3 separate regions of the Homo sapiens genome follow, and regions 1 and 3 are each linked to region 2. Evidence: fine-mapped expression QTL. A gene starts in region 2. Each other region holds a variant in brackets. All regions are shown on one strand. Distances are between the middles of the regions. Region 1 overlaps UQCC1 (ubiquinol-cytochrome c reductase complex assembly factor 1). Region 2 holds the start of UQCC1 (ubiquinol-cytochrome c reductase complex assembly factor 1). Region 3 holds the start of C20orf173 (chromosome 20 open reading frame 173).

Region 1 (8,668 bases), 37 kb after region 2:
ATAAGCTTTACTGAGAACAACCAAGTAATGCCACTTACACCATTTTAACAAGTTGGATTCAAATTAGAATTTCAATTTTATTATAGACTTCTACTTGTGGTTTCTTCTTATGGTGTCTGGTTCTCTTTCTAACAATTCTCACTACAGCAAATATGAGCTTCTCTCTATAATTACTCTTTTACCTGAATTCTGAAAAGTGAACAGTAATTCCACAAGCATTTTGTTTTTAAGGAGCTTTGAAAAAATATAGAAAGAACACAAATACTGACAATGATGTTCTTGAGTCCCTAAGGTTATGAAGTATCTTCTTAATTGCCAATGAAATATTAGTTATGTTCTTTAAAGTTGTATTTTTTAATATCTTAATTTTTGACACTTGATAATTGTTGATATACTTGGTAATGTTTTTAACCAGAATCTTTTCCCCTATTAAAAAAATGTTATGCTTATGGCATTTGGATTTACAAACTTAAAGTATATGTTTTGTTTGAAAATTAGAAATTAAGAGGGAAGTCAAAACAAAAAAAAGAAAAGAAACATTTACAGTTTTATTCATTTCTTGGTGATTGGGTTCCACTTGGTTGCTACCATATGTTTTGTCTAGGCTGTTTTTTAATGATTCTAGAGAGAAAATTGGCTATCATTTGGAGGATTACTAAATCATCAGGAAAATTCCTTTGCTCTTTTAGCCTAAGTTAGCCTCTGATTTTTCTTGGTTCCCTTGTGACATCAACTAAATCCCTAATGTTTGCATTTTAAAACTCTTGTGATGTGATGGTGTGTACTTTCTATAACCTTCATTTTATTTTATTTAATTTTAATTTTATTTTTTTGAGACAGAGTCTCACTCTGTCACCCAGGCTGGAGTACAGTAGCGTGATCTCAGCCTACTGTAACCTCCGCCTCCCAGGTTCAAGCAATTTTCCTGCCTCAGCCTCCTAAGTAGCTGGGACTACAGGCGCATGCCACCACACCTGGCTGACTTTTGTATTTTTAGTAGAGATGGGGTTTCACCATGTTGGGCCAGCCTGGTCTCCAACTCCTGACCTCAAGTGATTCCGCCTGCCTTGGCCTCCCAAAGTGCTGGGATTATAGGATTGAGCCACTGCGCCCAGCCTATAACCTTCATTTTAAAATTTGTTACATCACAATATCAACGTATGACATTCTAGTGTAATTGAGATGTGAAAATGTATGTGTAACTTTTCATTTTGAAAAACAGAACCGTTTTCAGCAATGTTGACTCAAATCAATGCACTTGTATTGGATTGCACTGGCAAAATTATTTGTTTTGTGTTTTCACATGTATTTGATTAGGGAGTAAAATACCTGCATGTCTGTCCACATCAGCAGTATCAGCTATCTTTTCTCTATCTTTTTCTTTAGGTTTCATGTGTTATTCCCATGTTTGATAATCATGTTTAGGATCTTAAATGTAGCTTTCCCTTACCTATTTGAGTATCTTGGAATCATCATTTTAAAAAATTACCTTTATATGCAGTATCAGGTGAGATAAGCACAATATTTACCCAACTCAGCCACATGCCATAGAATAGGTTTCCATATTAGCATTAAGCCAAAAAGTTATTCCTATTCTGAAGGACACTGACAAACTGGAATGTATTCAGAGGTAGGCAGTGAGCCTTATGAACATTTCAGAAACTGTTAAGAACGGTTGAAGGAAATAGGGATGCTTAGCCTGGAAAAGAGAAGACAGGATGATTCTTCTCAGGTATTTGAGGGGCAAATGTGAAAAAAAGAAGGTATTCCAGTGGGCAGAATAATGTTCAATGAATGTTATATGAAGCAGATTTTAAGTTTAGCAAAATAAGAATCTAACAAGAATTGTCCTCAGGTGGGACAGGTAGCCTTACAAGGTCATTGGTCTTGTTTGAACAGAGGCCCAGATGGTTGACTGTGAATCAAGAATGCTGTAGAAGGATTTCCAGTAGACAATAGAAGGTTCAAATTACTTAAAACACCCTTCTAACTCTTTTTTATCTTTTTTTGAGTTGGAGTCTCGCTCTGTCGCCCAGGCTGGAGTGCAGTGGCGCGATCTCGGCTCACTGCAACCTCTGCCTCCCAAGTTCAAGCAATTCTCCTGCCTCAGCCTCCCGAGTAGCTGGGATTACAGGTGCCTGCCACCACGCCCAGCTAATTTTTGTATTTTTAGTAGAGATGAGGTTTCATCATACTGGCCACCCTGGTCTCTTGGCCAGGCTGGTCTCAGAACTCCTGACCTCATGATCCGCCCACCTCGGCCTCTCAAAGTGCTGGGATTACAGGCATGAGCCACCTTGCCAGGCCCTTTCAAACTCTTACATAGCTGTTAATGCAAGCATTTTACTAGATTTGTTTTTCATCCTGTAGGATGTTAAAAAATGCATTAGTTCGTGGGAGAGCAGATTTTCATTTCCTAAAGCTGTTCAAGGTGCCTCTCTTTTACTCAAGTAAAAGATGACTGATGAAGTCTTCTAAAATTAAAATGAAATAAATATGAAGTCATCCAAGGACCAGAACAACTTGTATTGACTGGTTGAAAATTCAGTCCCCCTACGTCCTTAACTCAGATCAGTGCATGATTCTTGATGAGGTTCTTTCCTCAAGTTATTATTTCCAGTCTCTGTGTGATAGTCTTTAGAGACTTGTTTTAGAGATTTGTCCAGGAAAATGGCTCACCCAAGTATAAAGGCTTGGCCTTGCAGCAGGAAAAGTGAAGAACTATAAAATGCTCCTGATTGCCATAGCATGAGCACTGAAAACATACTCTGGCCAATCTGGTGAAGTCTTCATTGTTTGTGATGAATGCTTTTTCACAAACGTGTTGTTGGGGAAGCTTCCTTCTCAAGGAAAGACTTGGGCCTTGGGCCTTGAAGGCAAGTCTCCAGGCAAGGTGATTAATTATGAACCCAGGACTTTATATATAGGAATCTGAAGGAGATTACAAGATTTAAAAAAATCAAGAAATAGATGATTAGAAATTTTAGTTAAAGTTACATACTTGTCTGTAGCTGAACTGGGCCGTAAGCTCCATGAGAGTAGAGATTTTTGTCTGTTTTGCCCACTGCTCTATTCTCATCATCCAGATCAGTGCCAGGCACTGAGTTATGTACTCAGTGAATTATTGGATGAAGTGAGGAGCTAGGGCAGATGTCCTGAACTCCCTGTCTTAAGGATAGGAGTAGGCCTGTCAAGGCCAAATTATTAGGATCATGATATTATTAGATTATCATTAGTTTGGTAATGGCACAGACCAGTGCTTCCCAAGATGTGTTCTGTGGTCAGATACTTCCTAGAACTGCAAGTGTTAACAAAATTAAACAGGCTTTTTTTGGTCTGTTGATATGGTGAAACTGATTGATTTGTCAGTGTTGAATTATCTTTGCATTCCTGGGATAAATTTCACTTGATTATGATATACTATCCTTTTAAAAATATTGATGGATTTAATTTTAAAATATTTTCTTAAGGAATTTTGCATCAATGATCTATGTTCATGAAGGCTATTGTTCTGTAGTTTTGTTTTCTCCTAATGACTTTGATTTTGATATCAGGATAAGGTTGGCCTTATTGAATGAGCTGGGAAATATCCTTTCTTCTTGTTTTCTGGCAGAGTTTGTGTAGATTTCGTAACATTTCCTTTTTTCCTTTTCTTTTTCTTTTTTTTTTTGTTTTGTTTTGTTTTGTTTTGAGATGGAGTCTCACTCTGTCGCCAGGCTGGAGTGCAGTGGCGCACTCAGCTCACTGCAACCTCTGCCTCCTGGGTTCAAGCGATTCTTCTGCCTCAGCCTGGGACTACAGGCGCGTACCACCACACCCAGCTAATTTTTGTATATTTAGTAGAGATGGAGTTTCACCATGTTGGCCAGGATGGTCTCAATCTCTTGACCTCGTGATCCGCCCACCTCAGTCTCTCAAAGTGCTGGGATTACAGGTGTGAGCCACCGCGCCTGGCTGATTTCATAACATTTCTTTAGATGTTCAGTACAGTTCTCTAGTGATGCTATCTGGGTCTGCAGTTTGCATTGTGGGGAGGTTTTTAAAGACAAATCCAATTTCTTTAATAGATACAAGACTGTTCATGTTATTTATTTTAGTGAGCTTTAATAGTTTGTATCTTTCAAGGAATTTGTCCATTTCATCTAAGTAATCACATTCATTGGAGTAAAGTTGTTCATAGGATTCCCTTATTATCCTTTTAATGTCTTTAGGATATGCAGTGATGTCTGCTCTCTGATTCCTGATACTGAAAATTTGTATCTTATGTGTTTTGGGCTTTTCTTTTTCCTTGATCAGTTTTATAGGTTATCAATTTTATTGATTTTTTTTTTGAGGCGGAGTCTGGCTCTGTCGCCCAGGCTGGAGTGCAGTGGCACAATCTCGGCTCACTGCATCCTCTCCCTCCCAGGTTCAAGTGATTCTCCTGTCTCAGCCTCCCAAGTAACTGGGATTACAGGCGCCTGCCACCATGCCTGGCTAATTTTTGTATTTTTAGTAGAGTCGGGGTTTCACCATGTTGGCCAGGCTGGTCTCGAAATCCTGACCTCAGTTGATCTTCCTGCCTTGGCCTCTCAAAGTGCTGGGATTAGTGAGCCGGGTGGGTGAGCCACCACAACCCAACCTAATTTTATTGATATTTTTAAAGAAACGGCTTTGGCTTCAATTTTCCTTTTTTTTTTTTTTTTTTTTTTAGGCAAGGTCCAGCTCTGTCACCCAGGCTGGAGTGCAGTGGCGTGATCTCAGCTTGCTGCAACCTCCGCCTTCCAGGCTCAGCCTCCTACCTCAGCCTCCTGAGTAGCTGGTACTATAGGCACACACCACCATGGCCAGCTAATTTTTGTATTTTTGGTAGAGATGGAAACGTTTTGCCATGTTTCCCAGGTTGGTCTCCAACTCCTGGGCTCAGCCGATCTGCCTGTCTCAGCCTCCTAAAGTGCTGGGATTACAGGCGTGAGCCACCATGCCTGGCCTGGCTTGAATTTTCTGTATTTTATCTTCCTGTTTCAGTTTTGTTGATTTCTGATCTTTACTATATCATTCTTTCTGCTTGCTTTTAGGTTTAATTTGCTTTGCTTTTCTAGCATTTCACCATGGGTTTTGTTTAAACGTGGGCTTCTAATGCTGATTTACTCCCCAGATAGGGATATCTGATTTTTATTTGTCTATTTCTATATGTCCTATTTTCCCCTGTATTAACTTTAGACTGGAAGCTCTTAAAAACAT[G/A]ACAGATCTCAAGTTAGCAAATAAAATATCTTAATTACAATCAGAGACGTAATCATTCTTTAATTTGCTATGGGTATTTCTACCCATCAGAGACACTTGCTTTAACTCTAGAGAATTTAGAAAAACATGAACATTATATAGTTTTGGGTATAGTATGTTCTTGGTGACTTTAAACCTTAGTATCATAGCTCCACTAAATTCTAGATTGGTTTTTCTTCAGTTGCTATGTCATTCTCAGCCTGTACACATTTGTTTTTGGTCTATGCATATTTGAGTTTATAACTTTCCCTGTTGTTATAAGAAAAAATAAGCTTCTAGAAGCCTTGTTGAAGTGCTCATTTATTTAGTTATATCCTTAATGAAATGTTTTGAAAGTCCTTAAAATACCTGTTCCTAGAGTGCTGAGTTGGTCTTCAGACCCATAAGTCAACTCTTAAATAATTTATTTTTAGATTTATTTTTATTAAGGCATAATTTATATACAGTGTAATATAAAAATCTTAAGTATACAGCTCAGTGAAAAAATTAAAACCACCACTCATATCAAAAGCCTAAGAGAATTCCTAGTGCTTTGGGAATAGTAAAAGTTTGATTCTTATATTGTATTTTACAGTCATTAGAAACCCTTATTTACAGACACAGTGTTAATCAGCAAACTATAAAATTAAAGATCTGGAAAAAAGATACCGCTTACTCCATCCCCCGAGATTTATAGAATAGATAGTAGTGCCTCTGAGGAAAGATTAAAGGCTTGAGGGTTTTTGTATATTTCTTTGATTTTGGCCAGAAGAATGTGTACTTTTTTACTATAAAGGATTTCAGATTCTAAAGAGTTAATGTGGATAATGCTGAACAGTGATTTAGAGGCACAAATGTGGTGAAGTAGGTTGGAATTAAATGAGAGATTTCATTTAAATATTGGAAAAGCCTTTCTGAGGTTTTCATGCTAAAGTCCTAAAATATGAAAATTGTGTGAAGTCTGTATGAATGGCTAAGCTCTAAGAAAACAAAAAAAATTTATATTGGTTTAAATTACCTAGAGAGTGGTTTGGACCCTTCCTTCTAGTTGAAGAAATATAAGATTTTGTGACCCATGTCTAATGGAAGTAGAACATCCACTTGGTCATGTCTTGAGTTTGGTTTTATTCTCTTTGTCTAGAAGATTAAGATTGCGGCCCTGCGCATGTATACTAGCTGTGTGGAGAAAACTGACTTCGAGGAATTCTTTCTAAGTAAGTTATTGTTTGATAGTACTGAAAAGGAGAACAAATCTACATTTCATTTTTATGGTTGTGTTTTAATAGGATAGGTTTTTTTAGTCCCTAGTGAAACAGTTTTTCCTGCACAAAGCATATAATCCAAACTGTCTATTTGTCTCTTTAAAAAACTTCTTGTATATATTTCTTTAGAGACAAGGGTCTTGCTGTGTTGCCCGGGCTGGCCTAAAACTCCTGGGCTCAAGCAGTCCTACCACCTCAGCCTCCTGAATAGTAGCTGGGACTAAAAGCACATGGCACTGTACCCAGCTGCTTTTCTTTTTTAATAGAGTAAACAGAGAGCAAAAGGATCCTATAAATAAAACATTTTGCTTATTTTGAAAAAACAAACAAACTGTACTTTGACATTATCTCCCTTGTCCACACATGCATCTTTTTACATAAGAGTATTCATATCATAGTAAACATATTCTGTTTTACAGTCTGGATGGTTTTTTTTTTTTTTTTTTTTGAGATGGAGTCTTGCTCTATTAGCCCAGGCCGGAGTGCAGTGGTACGATCTTGGCTCAGTGTAACCTCCACCTCTCCACCTCCCAGGTTCAAGCAATTTTCCTGCCTCGGCCTCCCGAATAGCTGGGATTACAGGCATGTGCCACCATACCCAGCTAATTTTTGTATTTTTAGTTGACATGGGGTTTCACCATGTTGGCTAGGCTGGTCTCAAACTCCTGACCTCACGTGATCCGCCCTCCTTGGCCTCCCAAAATGCTGGGATTACAGGCGTGAGCCACTGTGCCTGGCCCATTCTGGATGTTTTACTTAGCATTTTGACATGGACGTTTGGCCAGCTATTCCTGTTTTTAATTTTTAATTGTTTTAATTAATCCTGGATTAATTATGATTTTTCTCATGTTAAAAGACTATTGGGTCAAAAGGCATATATAATTTTATTATGTATATCTCATTGATAAATTGCTTTCCAAAAGGGTTTTGCTGGTTTAGACTGTCAGAAGCAGTTGATTGTTATCACAGTATTAATTTTGATGCTGTAAACAGTTATATTATTAACAAAGTTAATTAAAGCAGGTACTTGTAATTGGGAGAGATTAAATCATTTCCAGTTCCACAGGTTTTGGAAGGAAATGTATGCTGTGTACTTCTGTGGTAATAGTCACATCCTCAAAGCAGCATACACCTAACTGTATACATTTGAGATTTTTCTCTAGCAGCAAATATTTGTATATAATTGTGTTCACAACAATGAAGAAAGCTGGGTGCAGTTTTGGTTATTTAATAACTATTTTTTTGTTGCATCGTGTTTTTTGAGACTTGCTTTGAGTCTTGCTCTATTGCCCAGATTGGAGTGGAGTGGTGCCATCTTGGCTCACTGCTACCTCCACCTCCCAGTTTCAAGTGATTCTTGTTCCTCAGCCTCCTGAGTAGCTGGGACTACAGGTGCACGCCACCATGCCCAGCTAAGTTTTGTATTTTTTTTAGTAGAGACAGGGTTTGGCTATGTTGGCCAGGCTGGTCTCAAACTCTTGGCCTCACATGATCCACCTGCCTTAGTCTCCCAACCCAAAGTTCCGGATTACAGGCGTGAGCCATGGGACCTGGCCTATTTTGGTTTTTAAAAATCAAATAAATACAAATCATTTTATTTTACTGTCTCAGCAGATTGACACCAAAAACTGAAATACCATACTGAATTATAATTCCAATTTAGTGTTCACCTTTCCTTTCTTCTTTATTCATAACCTGGAAAGAATATTTTCCTGCTTCTTTGTTAGTCTAGGATAAGTTAGTCCAAAAGGAAAAAATATTTTTTCTCTATCTGATGAAGCTATTAATATTAGAAACTGCTTTTTTTCTTTTTCTTTTTTTTTTTTTGAGACAGAATCTCAATCTGTCACCCAGGCTGGACTGCAGTGGTGTGATCTCGGCTCACTGCAACCTCTGCCTCCCGGATTCAAGCAATTCTGCCTCAGCCTCCCAAGTAGCTGGGATTACAGGCATGTGCTACCATGCCCGGCTAATTTTTTTGTACTTTTAGTAGAGACGAGGTTTCACCATATTGGCCAGGCTGGTCTCGAACTCCTGACCTTGTGATCCACCCACCTCGACCTCCCAAAGTGCTGGGATTACAGGCGTGAGCCACCACACCCGGCCTCTTTTTCTTTTTTTTAAGAGATGATCTTGCTCTGTCACCTAGGCTGGAATCAGTGGCT
Region 2 (7,885 bases):
CACTTCCCAACATTTGCTGATAGAATAGCATTTGTACAGACACATAGACCAATAGAACAGAATAGAGACCCAAAATAAACCTATGCATTTACAGTCAATTGATTTTCAACAACGGTGCAAAGAACACACAATGGGTAAAGGGCAGTCTTTTTAATAAATGGTGTAGGGACAACTAGATATCCACATGCAGAATGAAATTAGACTCTCACCTCATACCATATACAAAAATCGAAGGTCGGGTGTTATGGCTCACACCTTTAATCCTAGCACTTTGAGAGGCTGAGATGAGAGGATTGCTCAAGCCCAGAAGATTGAGACCAGCCTGGGAAACATAGAGAGACCCCCGTACCCCATCTCTACTAAAAATAAAAAAATTAGCTAGGCATGGTGGCACATGCCTACGGACCCAGCTATTCAAGAGGCTGAGGAGGGAGGATCACTTAAGCCCAGGACTTTGAGGCTACAGTGAGCCTTGATTGCACCACTGCACTCCAGCCTGGGTGACAGAGCAAGACCCTGTCTCAAATAAAAATCAATTCCAAATAGATTTAAGCCTTAAACACAAGACCTCAAACTAAAATTACTAGAAGAAGAAAATATAGAGGAAAAGCTGCATGACCTGGGTCTGGGCAATAATTTTTTTAATATGACCCCAAAAGTACAGGCAAAAAGAGTGAAAATAGAGAAATAGTGTTATATGAAACTAAGAAACTTTTGCACAGCAAAGGAAACAATCAACGGAGTGAAGAGACAACGTATGGAATGGGAGAAAACATTTAAAAACCATATATCTGATGAGGGGTTAATACCCAAATTTTAAAATGGGCAAAAGATCTGAATAGACATTTCTCAAAAGAAGACATACAAATGGCCAACAAGTATATGAAAAAATGCTCAGCATCATTAATCATCAGGGAAATGCAATCTAAAGCCACAATGAGATATTACCTTGCACCTGTTCGAATGGCTACTATAACATTGTTCCTAAGGACGTGGAGAAAGGGAACCCTTGCACACTGTTGGTGGAATGTAAATTAGTACACCCATTATAGAAAACAGTATGGAGGTTCCTCAAACAATTAAAAACAGAACCACCATAGGATACAGCAGTCTCACTATTGGATATATATTCAAAGGAGATGAAATCAGTATGTTGAAGAGGCATCTATACTAACATGTTCATTGCAGTGGTATTCACAACAGCCAAGTATGGAATTAACCTAAGTGTCCATTAGTGATGAACAAATAAAGAAAATGTGGTGGCTGGGCGTGGTTGTTCACGCCTGTAATTCCAGCACTTTGGGAGGCCGAGGTGGGCAGATCATGAGGTCAGGAGACCGAGACCATCCTGACCAACATGGTGAAACCCGTCTCTACTAAAAATACAAAAATTAGCTGGGTGTAGTGGTGCACGCCTGTAATCCCTGCTACTCAGGAGGCTGAGGCAGGAGAATCGCTTGAACCTGGGAGGGGGAGGTTGCAGTGAGCTGAGATTGCATCACTGCACTCTAGCCTGGTGGCAGAGTGAGACTCCGTCTCAAAAAAAAAAAAAAAAAAAAAGAAAAAAGAAAGAAAGAAAGAAAGAAAATGTGGTTTATGACCAGGTACAGTGACTCATGCCTGTAATCCCAGTACTTTGGGAGGCAGAGGTGGGCAGATGACTTGAGGCCAGGAGTTCGAGACCAGCCTGGCCAGCATGGTGAAACCCTGTCTCTACTAAAAATACAAAAATTAGCCGGACATGGTGGCACGTGCCTGTAGTCCCAGCTACTTGGGAGACTGAGGCACAAGAATTGCTTGAACCCAGGAGGTACAGGCTGCAGTGAGCTGGGATTGTGTCACTGCACTCCACCCTGGGCGGCAGAGCAAGACTCTGTCTCAAAAAAAAAAAAAAGTGATTTATATATATAATGGAATGCTATTCAGCCTAAAAGAAGAAGGAAATGCTGGCCAGGTGCGGTGGCTCACACCTGTAATCCCAACACTTTGGGAAGCCAAGGTGGGCAGATCACCTGAGGTCGGGAGCTCAAGACCAGCCTGACCAACATGGAGAAACCCCATCTCTACTAAAAATAAAAATTAGCTGGGTGTGGTGGCACATGCCTGTAGTCCAGGCTACTTGGGAGGCTGAGGCAGGAGAATTGCTTGAACCCGGGAGGGAGAGGTTGCAGTGAGCCAAGATTGTGCCACTGCACTCCAGCCTGGGCAACAAGAGCAAGACTCTGTCTCAAGGAAAAAAAAAAGAAGGAAATGCTCATATCTATGACAACATGGATGAACTGGGAGGATGTTATGTTAAGAGAAATAAATGAGGCACAGAAAGACAAACACTGCTTGATTTCTCTCATATGTGGAATATAAGTTGAACACACAGAAGTAGAGAGTAGAATGGTGGTTACTAGAGGCTGAGGAGATGTTTGTCAAAGGATACAAAATTTCAGTTAAGAGAGATAAGTTCAGGAGGCCACTTTGGGAGGCCAAGGCAGGCGGATCACCTGAGGTCGGGAGTTCGAGACCAGCCTGACCAACATGGAGAAACCCCGTCTCTACTAAAATATAATATTAGCTGGGCGTGGTGGCGCATGCCTGTAATCCCAGCTACTCAGGAGGCTGAGGCAGGAGAATCACTTGAACCCGGGAGGCAGAGGTTGCAGTGAGCCAAGATCACGCCATTGCGCTCCAGCCTGGGCAACAAGAGTGAAACTCCGTCTCAAAAAAAAAAAGAAAAGATCTATTGTATAACATGGTGACTATACCCACTATGAATATGTATTGTATTCTTGAAAATTGCTTAAAGAACATATTTTAAACATTTCCAGCACAAAAATATGAGGTAATGCATATATTAATTAGCTTGACTTAGCCATTTCACAATGTATACATATTTTAAAACATCCTGGCCGGGGGCACGGTGGCTCACTCTTGTAATCCCAGCACTTTCGGAGGCCGATGTGGGTGGATCACCTGAGGTTAGGAGTTTGAGACCGTCCTAGCCGAAATGGCAAAACCCCGTCTCTACTGAAAACACAAAAATTAGCCAGGCGTGGTGGTGCGCATCTGTAATCCCAGCTACTTGGGAGTCTGAGGCAGGAGAATCGCTTGACTTGGGAGGTGGAGGTTGCAGTGAGCCGAGATTGAGCCACTGCACTCCAGCCTGGGCGACAAGAGTGAAACTCTGTCTCAAAAAAAAAAAAAAAAAGAAAAAAGAAAACATCCTGTTGTACACAATATATATTTTTTGTCAATTAATAAAAATCAATAAATTTAATTAAAAAAATAGTCGAGTGAAGTTATTTCCCATGACTAGCTCCTCTTCTTCCTTTAGATTTCATCTTACATGTCACTTTCTTGGAGAGGCCTTACCAACCTAACCAAAGTAGCTCCCCAGTTTTAATTTTTTTCACTGGGTTCCTATGCCTCCCCCACCAGTCTAAGAACTCCATGAAGCCAGTATGTCTTGTGTTCAGCACATAGGGAAGACTCAATAGGTCTTTGTTGACTGAATGAAATGAAAGAAGTCCTTCAACATCCTGCCCCTCTGCTCCCTCAACCCCCAAAGCACCAGTACTTTGTCTTCTCTTCTCTTGGGATGTAATGGAAGAGGAGTCTTCTACCAAGGCCGTTCTCTGCCACTTTCCTCAAGAAGCTCCTTGCCTCTTTGATTGATTCTCCTGTATACTCTTTTTTTTTTTTTTTTTTTGAGACGGAGTCTCGCTTTGTCACCCAGGCTGGAGTTCAGTGCCCCAGTCTCAGCTCACTGCAACCTCTGCCTCCCGGGTTCAAGCGATTCCCTGCCTCAGCCTCCCAAGTAGCTGGGATTACAGGCACACGCCACCATGCCCGGCTAATTTTTTTCGTATTTTCAGTAGAGACGGGGTTTCACCATATTGGTCAGGCTGGTCTTGAACTCCTGACCTCAGGCAATCCACCTGCCTCGGCCTCCCAAAGTGTTGGGATTACAGGCATGAGCCACCGGGCACGGCCCTGTATACTCTTCACTAATCTTTTCCTATCAATATGCAAAGATGTTTCCCTTAAACAACCAACCAACCACAAATCCCAAAAGTTTCTTCCTCTACCAGGCTTCAGATCGGCACATGACCGCCTTCTTGCCTTGACTTTCAGGAGTCTGGTATCCCCCGTATTCTTTTATCTTAGCCTCCTTCTCTGGCTTTTTTTTTTTTTTTTTTTTTTTTTTTTTTGAGACAGAGTCCAGTCCTGCTCTGTCGCCCAGGCTGGAGTGCAGTGGCGCGATCTCGGCTCACTGCAACCTCTGCCTTCAGAGTAGCTGGGATTACAGGCACACACCAACATGCCCGGCTACTTTCTTTGTATTTTTAGTTAGGGACGGGGTTTTGCCATGTTGGCCAGGCTAGTCTCGAACTCCTGATCTCAGGTGATCCGCCCGCCTCGGCCTCCCAAAGTGCTGGGATTACAGGCGTGAGCCACCGCGCCCGGTCTTCTGGCTCTTTCTAAAGATTGGGATTTCCTAAAGTCCTGTTCTTTTCAACCTCCATTGAAAAGTGTTGGGGTGGAGTTTGGGAAGGAGGGGCTGAGGAGTGAGGCTGGGTTAGGTGGGGAATAAAGAGAGGGATATGAGAAGCCCCGAGGTCTGGGGTCAAGGAGACAGGCGTGGGGGAAGGATTTGAACCACTGTTACGTGTAGTGGGGGAGACAGCAGGGAGAGCGTGCCCGGGCACGACAGCCTGGTGCACAGCCGAGAAAACAACAGCGCGTGCGCGTAGCGACCTCTTTGCGCCTGCGCCCCCCTTGCCAGTCTTTCGCCGGCAAAAGGAGGACGTAGAAAAGGGGACACCGGAAACTCACTCTTCACCCGGAAATGGTTATTGAGGAACATGGCGTTGCTGGTGCGAGTCCTTGTGAGTGAAGGAGTAATTTTCTACGGTAGCTCTCTGGGTCCCGGGTTGGAGTTCGACAAGGCAGGGCGGGAGGAATTGGAAGGAATCGCAGGAGGGAAGCCTGTGTTATAGCTAGGCTGAGTGGCCGCTTTTCCGTGGGGAAACTGAGGCAGCTTCCGACCTCTTCCTACCCCGTTTTGACCTTAGCTCCCCCATCTTTCGAGAAGGGGAAGACTGACATCTGGCCTTTATTTGATGGGGTTTACTTTTCCTTCCCTCCCCCATGTACCTGCTTCCCCTCAGGGAGAGGAGCATGTAGGACACTGATTGGAGTTTCAGGAGGCCTGGGTTCTAGTCCCTGACTGTCACTGATGCATAGTGACTTTAAGCAAGTCACTTTTGGGCCTCATTGACCCTATGTGAAAAACGAGGACATTTATCTCCTGCAGTCCCTTTAGATTCTGAGATTCTCAGGGTTTCTTTCATAGGTAATAAGTCAGTTCTTAACTGTACAGTTAAGTGGAATATAGATTATTAGATTGAAAGCTGCGTGAGAATTGGAGTCATGTCTGTCTCCGTCGTTTTCACTTTGCCTAGCATGGTGTCTGGCACATCATAGGTGTTAAATGATTACTTGTTGAATAAATGAATGAAGTAAGGAAAGACTACCAGACTCTTTAGCACCCGTGTGTGAAACTACTGCACCTCTTGAGATTTAGTCCTGACCCTTCTAGCATACTCTTTTCTCTAGCAATTAAAGGAGAAAAGAAAGTGGCAGCAGAAAAAACGTTAGGATACAGAGCTTAGTTTTTAATCATGGAGGGATGGGAGAGTGTATAGTTTTAGCGAGTCTTCAAAAACTGGGTCAAAGACACTGTTTTTCATAGTAGACATGGTCTATTCCTGTGTCTAGGTAACTTCTGAATTGTTATTTTACATTTGTGTTTTTGATCTTTTTATATATGTCTTACAAGGACGACAGTTTTACTTCTTGTATTCCTTGCCAGCCTAGCAGAGTGAGGTACCCTCGACTGCTGTTCAGTAAATATTTATTTGTAGAGTAGCCCCTGTAACTGCCAGAAAGATTCACCTGGTGAAGTGATTGTTTGATTTCAGGCCAGAAATTGATTCAGAAATGAGGACTGCTGGGGAAATGGCAATTAGAATGTTCTGAATTTAGTGGTTTTTTTTTTTTTTTTTTTTTTAATCCTTCCCCTGCCACCCTTTAGGGTTTTGTTTTTTTTTTTTTTTTTTTTGAGGCAGAGTCTTGCTCTGTCGCCGAAGCTGGAGTGCAGTGGTGCCATCTCGGGCTCACTGCAACTTCTGCTCCCGGGTTCAAGCAATTCTCCTGTGCCAGCCTCCCGAGTAGCTGGGATGACAGGCATGCACCACACCACACCTGACTAATTTTTGTATTTTTTTTTTTTTTGAGATGGAGTCTCGCTCTGTCACCCAGGGTGGAGTTCAGCGGTGTGATCTCGGCTCACTGCAACCTCTGCCTCCTGGGTTCAAGCAGTTCTCCTGCTTCAGCCTCCCAAGTAGCTGGGATTACAGGCGCCTGCCACCACACCTGGCTAACTTTTGTATTTTTAGTAGAGATGGAGTTTCACCATGTTGGCCAGACTGGTCTCGAACTCCTGACCTCATGATCCGCCTCCTGCGGCCTCCCAAAGTGCTGGGATAACAGGCATGAGCCACCGAGCCTGGCCTGACAACTATCATTTTATAGGGCACTTACTACGTGCTAAGCACTTTAAAATACTTACCTAATCCTTATAACATCCCTTTGGAAAGGAGGGCGTGTTATTTCCTCTATTTTACAGATAAGAAAACTGAACCACAGAGAGGTATTCCTGGCCAGGTGCCGTGGCTCACACCTGTAATCCCAGCACATTGGGAGGCTGAGGTAGGTGGATCACTTGAGGCCAGGAGTTCAAGACCAGCCTGGCCAACGTGGTGAAACCCTGTCTCTACTAAAAATACAAAAATTAGCCAGGCCTGGTGGTGGGCGCCTGTAATCCCAGCTACTCGTGAGGCTGAGACACGAGAATTGCTTCAACCCAGGAGGCGGAGGTTGCAGTGAGCTGAGATTGTGCCACTGCAGTCCAGCCTGGGTGAAAGAGTGAAACTCTGTCTGAAAAAAAAAAAGAAGTATTCCTGAAACATTCTTGTTAGTCTTGCTTTATTTTTTCCTCTTTTTGTCTTGTCAGCCAATATTTTCCCTTCTCCAGTGATGGTTTTGGGAAGGAGGAGGAAACTAAAACACTGCTATTGTTGAATGACTACAGCAGAGAGCCTGGACATTTGATCAGTGGAACTGGACATGCTTATGGTTTTTATGAGTTGTCCTGGGCATTGCTGATCATTTCTGCTTTTCTTTGGAAATAGTAAAAATTGCAGAAAGCCACCCTGTACTTTAGAAAATTAAAAAAAAGTTGTGGTAAAATACATGTAACAAAATTTACCTTTTAAACTTTTTTTTTTTTTTCTGAGACGGAGTTTTGCTCTTGTTGCGCAAGCTGGAGTGCAATGGCGTGATCTTGGCTCACTGCAACCTCTGCCTCCCGGGTTCAAGCGATTCTCCTGCCTCAGCCTCCTGAGTAGCTGGGATTACAGGCACGTGCCACTACGTTCAGCTAATTTTTTGTATTTTTAGTAGAAATGGGGTTTCACCATTTTAGCCAGGCTGATCTTGAATTCCTGACCTCAGGTGATCTGCCCGCCTTGGCCTCCCAAAGTGCTGGGATTACAGGCATGAGCCACTGTGCTTGGCCACCTTTGAAACTTTTTAAGTGTACAGTTCTGTGGTATTGAGTGCATTTACATTGTTGTGCCATCTTTACCACCCTTATCCACAGAATTATTTTCATTTTATAAAACTGAAACTCTGAACCTATTAATAACTCTCTATAGTCTTTTCTCCCCAGCCCCTGGCAGCCACCATTCTACTTTCTGTCTCCGTGAGTTTAACTACTTTGTGTACCTCATATAAGTGGAATCATACAGTATTTGACCTTTTGTGACTG
Region 3 (8,668 bases), 120 kb before region 2:
GCTTGAACCCAGGAGGTGGAGGTTGCAGTGAGCCAAGATCATGCCATTGCACTCCAGCCTGGAGGACAAGAGTGAAACTTTGTCTGAAAATTAAATAAAATAAATAAAATAAAATAAAAATTATTAAAAAATAAAAATTAAAAATTGCACTAAATTCAGATTTTAAAATGTAATATCCATGTATGCAAGCAACACTCAAATATACACACACACACACTGTGTCCCTGCCCTGTGTTGAGTCCTGGGAAGAGAGAGTTGAATTAGAACAGTTCTTGCCTTCAAGAATGTTACAGTCCTGGCTGGGCACGGTAGCTCACGCCTGTAATCCCAGCACTTTGGGAGGCCGAGGAGGGTGGATCACCAGGTCAGAAGTTTGAGACCAGCCAGGCCAGAAGACCAGCCTGGCCAATATGGTGAAACCCCGTCTCTACTAAAAATACAAAAATTAGCTGGGCATGGTGGTGGGCGCCTGTAATCCCAGCTACTCAGGAGGCTGAGGCAGGAGAATTGCTCGAACCCGGGAGGCAGAGGTTGCAGTGAGCCGAAGATTGTGCCATTGCACTCCAGCCTGGGCAACAGAGCGAGACTCCGAATCAAAAAAAAAAAAAGAAAGAAAGAAAGTTACAGTCCTAATTATGGATATTAATATATCCCTTAATAAAATAATAAAAATAAAAATAATAGCTAATAATAATAATTTTTTAAAATAGCTAGCATTGGCCGGGTGCAGTGGCTCACACCTGTAATTCCAGCACTTTGGGTGTCAGAAGTGGGAGGATCACAAGGTCAGGAGTTTGAGACCAGCCTGACCAGCATAGTGAAACCTTGTCTATACTAAAAATACAAAAAATTAGCCAGGCATGGTGGCGTGCACTTGTAGTCCCAGCTACTTGGGAGGCTGAGGCAGGAGAATGGCTTGAACCCGGCAGGCAGAGGTTGCAGTGAGCCAAGATCGCATCACTGCACTCCAGCCTGGGTGACAGAGGGAGACTCCATCTCAAAAAAAAAAAATACCTAGCATTTGTCAAGCCACTACTATGTGGCAAATATGGTGGTAAACTCTTTTTTTTTTTTTGAGACAGATTCTCATTCTGTTACCCAGGCTGGAGTGCAGTTGTGCAATCTCAGTTCACTGCAACCTCCACCTCCCAGTTCAAGCGATTCTCATGCCTCAGCCTCCCGAGTAGTGGGATTACAGGCGTCCACCACCACACCTGGCTAATTTTTTATATTTTTGGTAGAAATGGGGTTTCACCATGTTGGCCAGGTTGGTCTCGAACTCTGACCTCAAATGATCTGCCCGCTTTGGCCTCCCAAAGTGCTGGGATTACAGCCATGAGCCACCGCACCTGCCCTGTTGTAAACTCTTTTATCTTCACCTATATCATGTCAGTTCATCTTCACAACAACCTTAGGCCGGGCACAGTGGTACACACCTATAGTTCCAGCTACTTGGGAGACTGAGGCAGGAGAGGGAGGATCACTTAAGCCCAGGAGTTTGAGACCAGCCTGGGCAATATAGCAAGACCCTGTCTCTAAAAACAAAACAACAACAAAAACAACAACCTTAGATGCTAACTGCTATTATTATCCCTGATTAAAAGCTTTGAGTGGCTAATAAGCTAATATCTAAACTCCAGTCTGTTTTATTTCAAAGTGCATAGCTCAAATCATTCAATGACTTAAGATCAAAACTTTGATAAGAGGTGGCACAGGGGGACCATGGGAGTCTGTAAGGGAAGGTGACTAACATGCTGGGTTAGGGAATGCTTCCATAAAAAGGAAGAGGAGGGACCCTGGAGTTGGGTGACTGTGGCAGCCTGACCGCAGCTCACCAAGGAAGGAGCAAAGACAAGGAGAAACTAATACTAACTGAACATGGACAATATGCCCATTGCTGTAATCCATTTCACCCTCAAAACAACGTGGGAGTTAGGTGCTTTTTTTTTTTTTTTGAGACAGAGTTTCGCTCTGTCACTCAAGCTAGAGTGCAGTGGCGTGATCTTGGCTCACTGCAACGTCTGCCTCCCAGGTTCAAGCAATTCTCATGCCTCAGCCTCCTGAGTAGCTGGGATTACAGGTGCACACCACCATGCCCAGCTAATTTTTGTATTTTTTGTAGAGATGGGGTTTTGCCACGTTGGCCAGGCTGGTTTCTAACTCCTGGCCTCAGGCAATCCACCTGCCTCAGCCTCCAAAAGTGCTGGTATTACAGGCATGAGCCAGCGCATGCGCAGCCTAGGTGCTACTTCAAGTCTCATTTTATAGATGAGGAAGCCAAGAGGTGAACTGACTTTCCCAAGATGGCAGGCGCACGCCTGTAATCCCAGCTACTCAGGAGGCTGAGGCAGGAGAATCGCTTGAACCTGGGAGGTGGAGGTTGCAGTGAGCCGAGATTGCACCACTGCACATCAGCCTCGGCGACAGAGCGAGACTCCATAGAAAAAAAAAAAAAAAGTGAAAGTACATTTCAAAGAATTTCTAGAAATGAAAAATAGTCATTTAAGTTTAAAAACCAGTAGAAGGGCTAAACAACCAATTAGGCACAGTTAAAGAGAGAAATATTGGCCGGGTGCAGTGGCTCACACCTGTAATCCCAGCACTTTGGGAAGCCAAGGCAGGTGGATCACCTGAAGTCAGGAGTTTGAGACCAGCCTGGCCAACATGGTGAAACCCCATCTCTACTAAAAATACAAAAATTAGCCAGGCATGGTGATGAACGTCTGTAATACCAGCTACTTGGTAGGCTAAGGCAGGAGAACTGCTTGAACCTGGAAGGTGGTTGCAGTGAGCTGAGATGGGGCCACTGTACTCCAGCCTGGGCAACAGAGTGAGAACTCCGTCTCAAAAAAAAAAAAAAAAGAGAGAGAGAGAGAGAAATATTGAACAGAAAGATGGAGCTGAAAAACATTACCCATAATGTAATATAGAGAAATAAAATCATAGATGTAAAAGAGAGATTCAGATACTTGAAGGATAGAAAGAAAAACAATCCAACATTTGCCTAATAGGAGTTTCCTAATAGGAGGAAATACTGAGAATAAGGGAGAGGCAATATTTGAAAGAAATGGCTGAGAATTACCCAGAATTGATGAAAGGCAAGAGTTCTCATATTTAGGAAGCCTGAATGTACTGTAACAGGATAAATGAACATATATTCATACCTAAACACCAGAACAGCAAAAGCAAAGAAATGCTAAGATCTGGAAAAAATGGGTAGTGGGGATATGAATGTCATGTAATTGATTCTAGTCTTATTCAATGTATTATTCACTAGAGTATGCTTGGAATGATGAATGTGTTCTGAGACTAGATAGTGATGATGGTTGCACATTAAAAAAATGGATAAAATGCAATGAGAACACATGGACACAGGGAGGGGAACAACACACACTGGGGCCTGCCTGGTGGGCAGGCCAGTGGGAGGGAGCGCATCAGGATAGCTAATGCAGGCAGGGCTTAATGCCTACGTGATGGGTTGATAGGTGCAGCAAACCACCATGGCACACATTTACCTACGTAACAAACCTGCACATGTATCTCGGAACTTTCTTTTTTTTTTTTTTTTTCTGAGATGGAGTCTGTCACCAGGCTGGAGTGCAGTGCCTCGATTTCAGCTCACTGCAACTTCCGCCTCCTGGGTTCAAGCGATTCTCCTGCCTCAGCCTCCTGAGTAGCTGGGATTACAGGCACGCGCCACTATGCCCAACTAATTTTTGTATTTTTAGTAGAGATGGGGTTTCACCATGTTGGCCAGGATGGTCTCAATCCCTTGACCTTGTGATCCCCCTCCCCTGTCTTGGCCTCCCAAAGTGTTGTGATTACAGGCGTGAGCCACTGCTCCTGGCCTGTATCCTGGAACTTAAAATAAAATTTTATATATATTATATAAAATAAAAATATATATATATACACACACACACACACACACACACACACACACACATATATATATATATATTTTTTTTTTTTTTTTTT[TG/G]AGACAGAGTCTCATTCCATTGCCTAGGCTGGAGTACAGTGGTGCGATCTCAGGTCACTGCAACCTCTGCCTCCTGGGTTCAAGCAATTCTCCTGCCTCAGCCTCCCAAGTAGCTGGGATTACAGGCACACACCGCCACGCCTGGCTAATTTTTGTATTTTAGTAGAGACAGGGTTTCACCATATTGCCCAAGCTGGTCTTGAACTCCTGAGCTCAGGCAATCCGCCTGCCTCAGCCTCCCAAAGTGCTAGGATTACAGGCATAAGCCACCACACCCGGCCAAAATATTTTTAAAATGGTTAAAATGGTAAATTTTATGAGTTTACAAAAATTTTAAAAATTATACCAGTTGGCCAGGCACAGTGGCTCATACCTGTAATCCCAGCACTTTGGGAGGCCAAGGCAGGCAGATGACAAGGTCAAGAGATTGAGATCATCCTGGTCAACATGGTGAAACCCTGTCTCTACTAAAAATACAAAAATTAGCTGCGCGTGCTGGCTCGGACCTGTAGTCCCAGCTACTCGGGAGGCTGAGGCAGGAGCATCTCTTGAACCCGGGAAGCAGAGGTTGCAGTGAGCTGAGATCATGCCACTGCACTCTAGCCTGGCAAAAGAGCAAGGCTCCATCTCAAAAAAGAAAAAAAAATTGTAGCAGTTGATGTAAATGAAATAGCAATAAAACTTGCTATACATCTTTTCCTAAATGATTTTTTTTCTTTGAGACAAGGTCTCACTCTGTCACTCAGGCTGGAGTGCAGTGGTGCAATCACATATCACCGAAGCCTTGACTTCCTGGGCTCAAGTATTCCCTACCTCAGTCTCCTCCTGAGTAGCTGGGACCACAATGGCCAATTTTTATATTTTTTATAGAGATAGGGTCTCCCTACGTTGCCCAGGCTGGTAGATAATTTTTAAAACCTTTTCATTTTGAAAAAACCATAGGCACACAAGAAATTGTAAAAATAGTACAGAAAATTCCCATGTACCCATCATCCATTTTCCCATTTTATTCTTTATTTTTGCTTTATTTTTTTTTTTTAGAGACAGAGTCTTGCTCTGTCACGCAGGCTGGAGTGCAGTGCTGCTATCATAACTCACTGCAGCCTTTAACTCCTGGACTCAAGTGATCCTCCCACCTGAACCTCCCAAGTAGCTAGGAATAAAGGCGCACACCACCAAGCCCAGCTAATTTTGTGTGTGTGTGTGTGTGTGTGTGTGTGTGTGTGTGTGTGTGTGTGTAGAGTCTTGCTGTGTTGCCCAGGCTGGTCTCAAACTCCTGGCTTCAAGCTTCAAACCCCACCTTGGCCTCCCAAAGTGCTGGGATTACAGGCACGAGCCACTGTGCCTGGCCTTCATTTTCTCTTAATGGTAGTGTCTTACCATATAATACATATAGTAATTTTTCTTTTTCTTTTTTTGAGACAGAGTTTCACTCTTTTTGCCCAGCTAAAATCACATTCAGTGGTGCGATCTCGGCTCACCGCAACCTCCGCCTCCCGGGTTCAAGCAATTTTCCTGCCTCAGCCTCCCGAGTAGCTGGAATTACAGGCATGCGCCACCATGCTTGGCTAATTTTGTATTTTTAATAGAGACAGGGTTTCTCCATGTTGGTCAGGCTGGTCTCGAACTCCTGACCTCAGGTGATCTGCCCACCTTGCCTCCCAAAATGCTGGGATTACAGGCGTGGGCCACCGCGCCCAGCCCATATGGTACTTTTTCAAAACCTGGAACTTGACGTTGGTATGATATAATTAACTAGCCTACACACCTTACTCAGATATTTGGGTGAATTGATTTAAAAGCTATACAATATCCAGTGCAGCTTTCCACTAGTTAAGATGAAGAATTTTACTGTTCTTATCCCATTGAATAAAATGTTTTGATTTTTTTTAAAAACCAAAATGTTCTGTTTTTTTCTTAAACTTTAAAAACAACTCAAACATTTTCATTTTTTTACTATCTTTACAAGACTACAATTGAATTAAGGGGGTGGCAGTGGAGATGAAGAAGATGACTTAGAAATAGAAACGAATTAAAAAATGGATTTGAGGCCAGACTCAGTGGCTTATGCCTGTAATCTCAGCACTTTGAAAGGCCGAGGAGGGTGGATCACTTGAGCTGAGTTCGAGACAGGGCTGGCACAGTAAACCCCATCTCTACTTAAAAAAAAAAATCAGCAAGGCTCGGTGGCTCACGCCTGTAATTCCAGCACTTTGGGAGGCCGAGGTGGGCGGATTGCTTGAGACCAGGAGATGGAGACCAGCCTAGCCAACACAGTGAAACCCCGTTTCTACCAAAAAAATACAAAAATGAGCCAGGTGTGGTGTTGTGCGCCTGTAGTCCCAGCTACCTGGGAGGCTAAGGCATGAGAATCACTTGAACCTGGGAGGTAGAGGTTGCAGTGAGCCAAGATTGTGCCACTGCACTCCAGCCTGGGCGACAGAGTGAGACTCTGTTTCAAAAATAAATTAAATAAATAAATAAGCCTAGCGTGGTGGCACACTTCTGTAGTCCCAGCATCTTGGCAAGCTGAGGTGAAAGGATTGCTTGAACCTTGGAGGCAGAGGCTACAGTGGGCTAAGATTGTGCCACTGCACTCCTGCCTGGGTGACAGAGTGAGACTTTGTCCTAAAAAAAAAAAAAAAAAAAGAATTTGGGTATCATAGGAGTAGGAGGAATTAATAACACATGAGTTCTGGTTTCAATAACTGGGTACGTGGTGGAACCATTTGTTGAGATAGAGAAGTTTTGAAGCTGGGTGCAGTGGCTCACGCCTGTAATCCCAGTACTTTGGGAGGCCGAGGTGGGCAGATTACCTGAGGTCAGGAGTTTGAGATCAGCCTGGCCAACATGGTGGAATCCCGTTTGTACCAAAAATACAAAAAATTAGCCGGGCTTGGTGGCACGCACCTGTAATCCCAGCTATTCGGGAGGCAGAGGCAGGAGAATTGCTTGAACCCCGGAGGAGGCAGAAGTTGCAGTGAGCTGAGATTGCGCCACTGCACTCCAGCCTGGGTGACAGAGCAAGACTCTGTCTCAAACAAAACAAAAGAGACAGAGAAGTTTTGGGAAGGGTTGGTTTACAGGGAAAATCCTGGGTTCAGTCTCAGGCTTATTCAGGTGAGATGTCTCTGAGCCATCTAAGTGGCAATTCAGTAGGCTGTTGGATATGGGGTCTAGAGACTACAAGAGAGGATTGAGTTGATGTCACACAACTCCAGAGAGGGCATCACACACAAGTATATTTAAAGTTCCAGGCTGGGGCGGGGTGCAGTGGCTCATGCCTGTAATCCCAACACTTTGGGAGGCCAAGGCGGGCGGATCACCTGAGGTCAGAAGTTCGAGATCAGTCTGACCAACATGGGGAAACCCCGTCTCTACTAAAAATACAAAAAAATTAGCCAGGCGTGGTGGCGGGCACCTGTAATCCCAGCTACTTGGGAAACCGAGGCAAGAGAATCACTTAAACCCGGGAGGTAGAGGGTGCAGTGAGCCGAGATCGTGCCTCTGCACTCCAGCTGGGGCGACAAGAGTGAAACTCCGTCTCAAAATAATAATAATAATAATAATAATAATAATAATAATAATAATAATTTAAAAATAAAGTTCCCGGCTGGGCATGGTGGTTCACGCCTGTAATTCCAGCACTTTGGGAGGCTGAGGTGGGCGGATCACTTGAGGTCAGGAGTTTGAGACCAGCCTGGCCAATATGGCGAAACCCTGTCTCCACTAAAAATATAAAAATTAGCCAGGCGTGGTGGCGCATGCCTGTAGTCCCAGCTACTTGGGAGGCTGAGGCATGAGAATCGCTTGAACCAGGCAGGCGGAAGTTGCAGTGAGCCAAGATCATGCCACTGCACTCCAGCCTGGACAACAGAGCAAAAACTCCATCTCAAAAAAAAAAAAAAAAGTTCCCTCTCAACCCCTGTTTATTTATCCCATAAATATTTATTAAATGATTCTAAGTCTTAGAGCTGCAGAGGTGAAGAAGAGAGACTAGGTCAGCCCCTGTCCTCATGAATCTTACATCCAGTGGAGGTCATTTCGGTGTCAGAGAAAGGGTAGGGTGGTGGCTTTTTTCAGGCAGGCTAAAGGAGGGAGGTCACAATGTGTACTTTGTGATGAGATCTATGATATAACTGGGATGACAGCAAGGCCCCCACTGAGGTATTCCTTCCCCTCTCAGGACTAGCCACATGCTGTCTCTCTGCCCTGGCCTCTTCCACCCCATGCCCAGTCAGAGACCGTTTTGAGGGTGAGCAAATGGATAGTGAGGCAGGAGAGGAGGGGTTGGAAGGAGGTGGAAGGTGGTGGGATGGGGAGTTGTGGAGGCCGACAGGACAGAGGGAAGCTGGTGCTGTCTGTGGCCTCAGCCCCTCATCCTTACAGGTAGAGAAGCCAGTCTACGGCCCACCACGGGAGCCACCGCCTGGGCCAGACATGAAGCGCTGGCAGATTTTTGTCCTGTGGGTCTTTTGGGTGCTCATCCTCTGGCTGATGACCCCCTATCTGGATCTGACACCTGAATCAGCACCCCAGGAAAAACGAATGTACTTGGTACCACAGCATTGCGACTGCCCTTGGTTCAGTTCCGGGAAGTGTGGCTGCCCTTCTGAGACCCTCAACTGCTCCTCCTGCCACCACACAGCCGACGAATGGAACTGGCTTGATGCGTGCTCCAGGAAGACT

The links. PIP is the estimated chance that this variant, and not a neighbour inherited with it, causes the effect.
Region 1: its variant is fine-mapped to the expression of UQCC1 in whole blood (TOPMed, PIP 0.99).
Region 3: its variant is fine-mapped to the expression of UQCC1 in whole blood (INTERVAL, PIP 0.96).

Annotation. Positions count from the first base shown.
Region 1 is chr20:35,371,971-35,380,638 of GRCh38, reverse strand. UQCC1 (ubiquinol-cytochrome c reductase complex assembly factor 1) reads left to right here. Exons shown (of 10, transcript NM_018244.5): 5 at 6,383-6,455. Among named protein-coding and RNA genes, the nearest start is that of UQCC1, 36 kb to the left of the region's middle. The variant G/A (reference allele first, on the strand shown) is at 5,224.
Region 2 is chr20:35,408,935-35,416,819 of GRCh38, reverse strand. It overlaps UQCC1 (ubiquinol-cytochrome c reductase complex assembly factor 1), which reads left to right and starts at 4,847. Exons shown (of 10, transcript NM_018244.5): 1 at 4,847-4,880. The coding sequence starts at 4,857. RefSeq lists enhancers at 4,612-4,661, 3,869-4,691, 4,792-4,941, 5,002-5,101, 4,692-5,515.
Region 3 is chr20:35,529,125-35,537,792 of GRCh38, reverse strand. C20orf173 (chromosome 20 open reading frame 173) reads left to right here and starts at 8,141. Exons shown (of 6, transcript NM_001145350.2): 1 at 8,141-8,234; 2 at 8,369-8,668. The coding sequence starts at 8,420. The variant TG/G (reference allele first, on the strand shown) is at 3,979.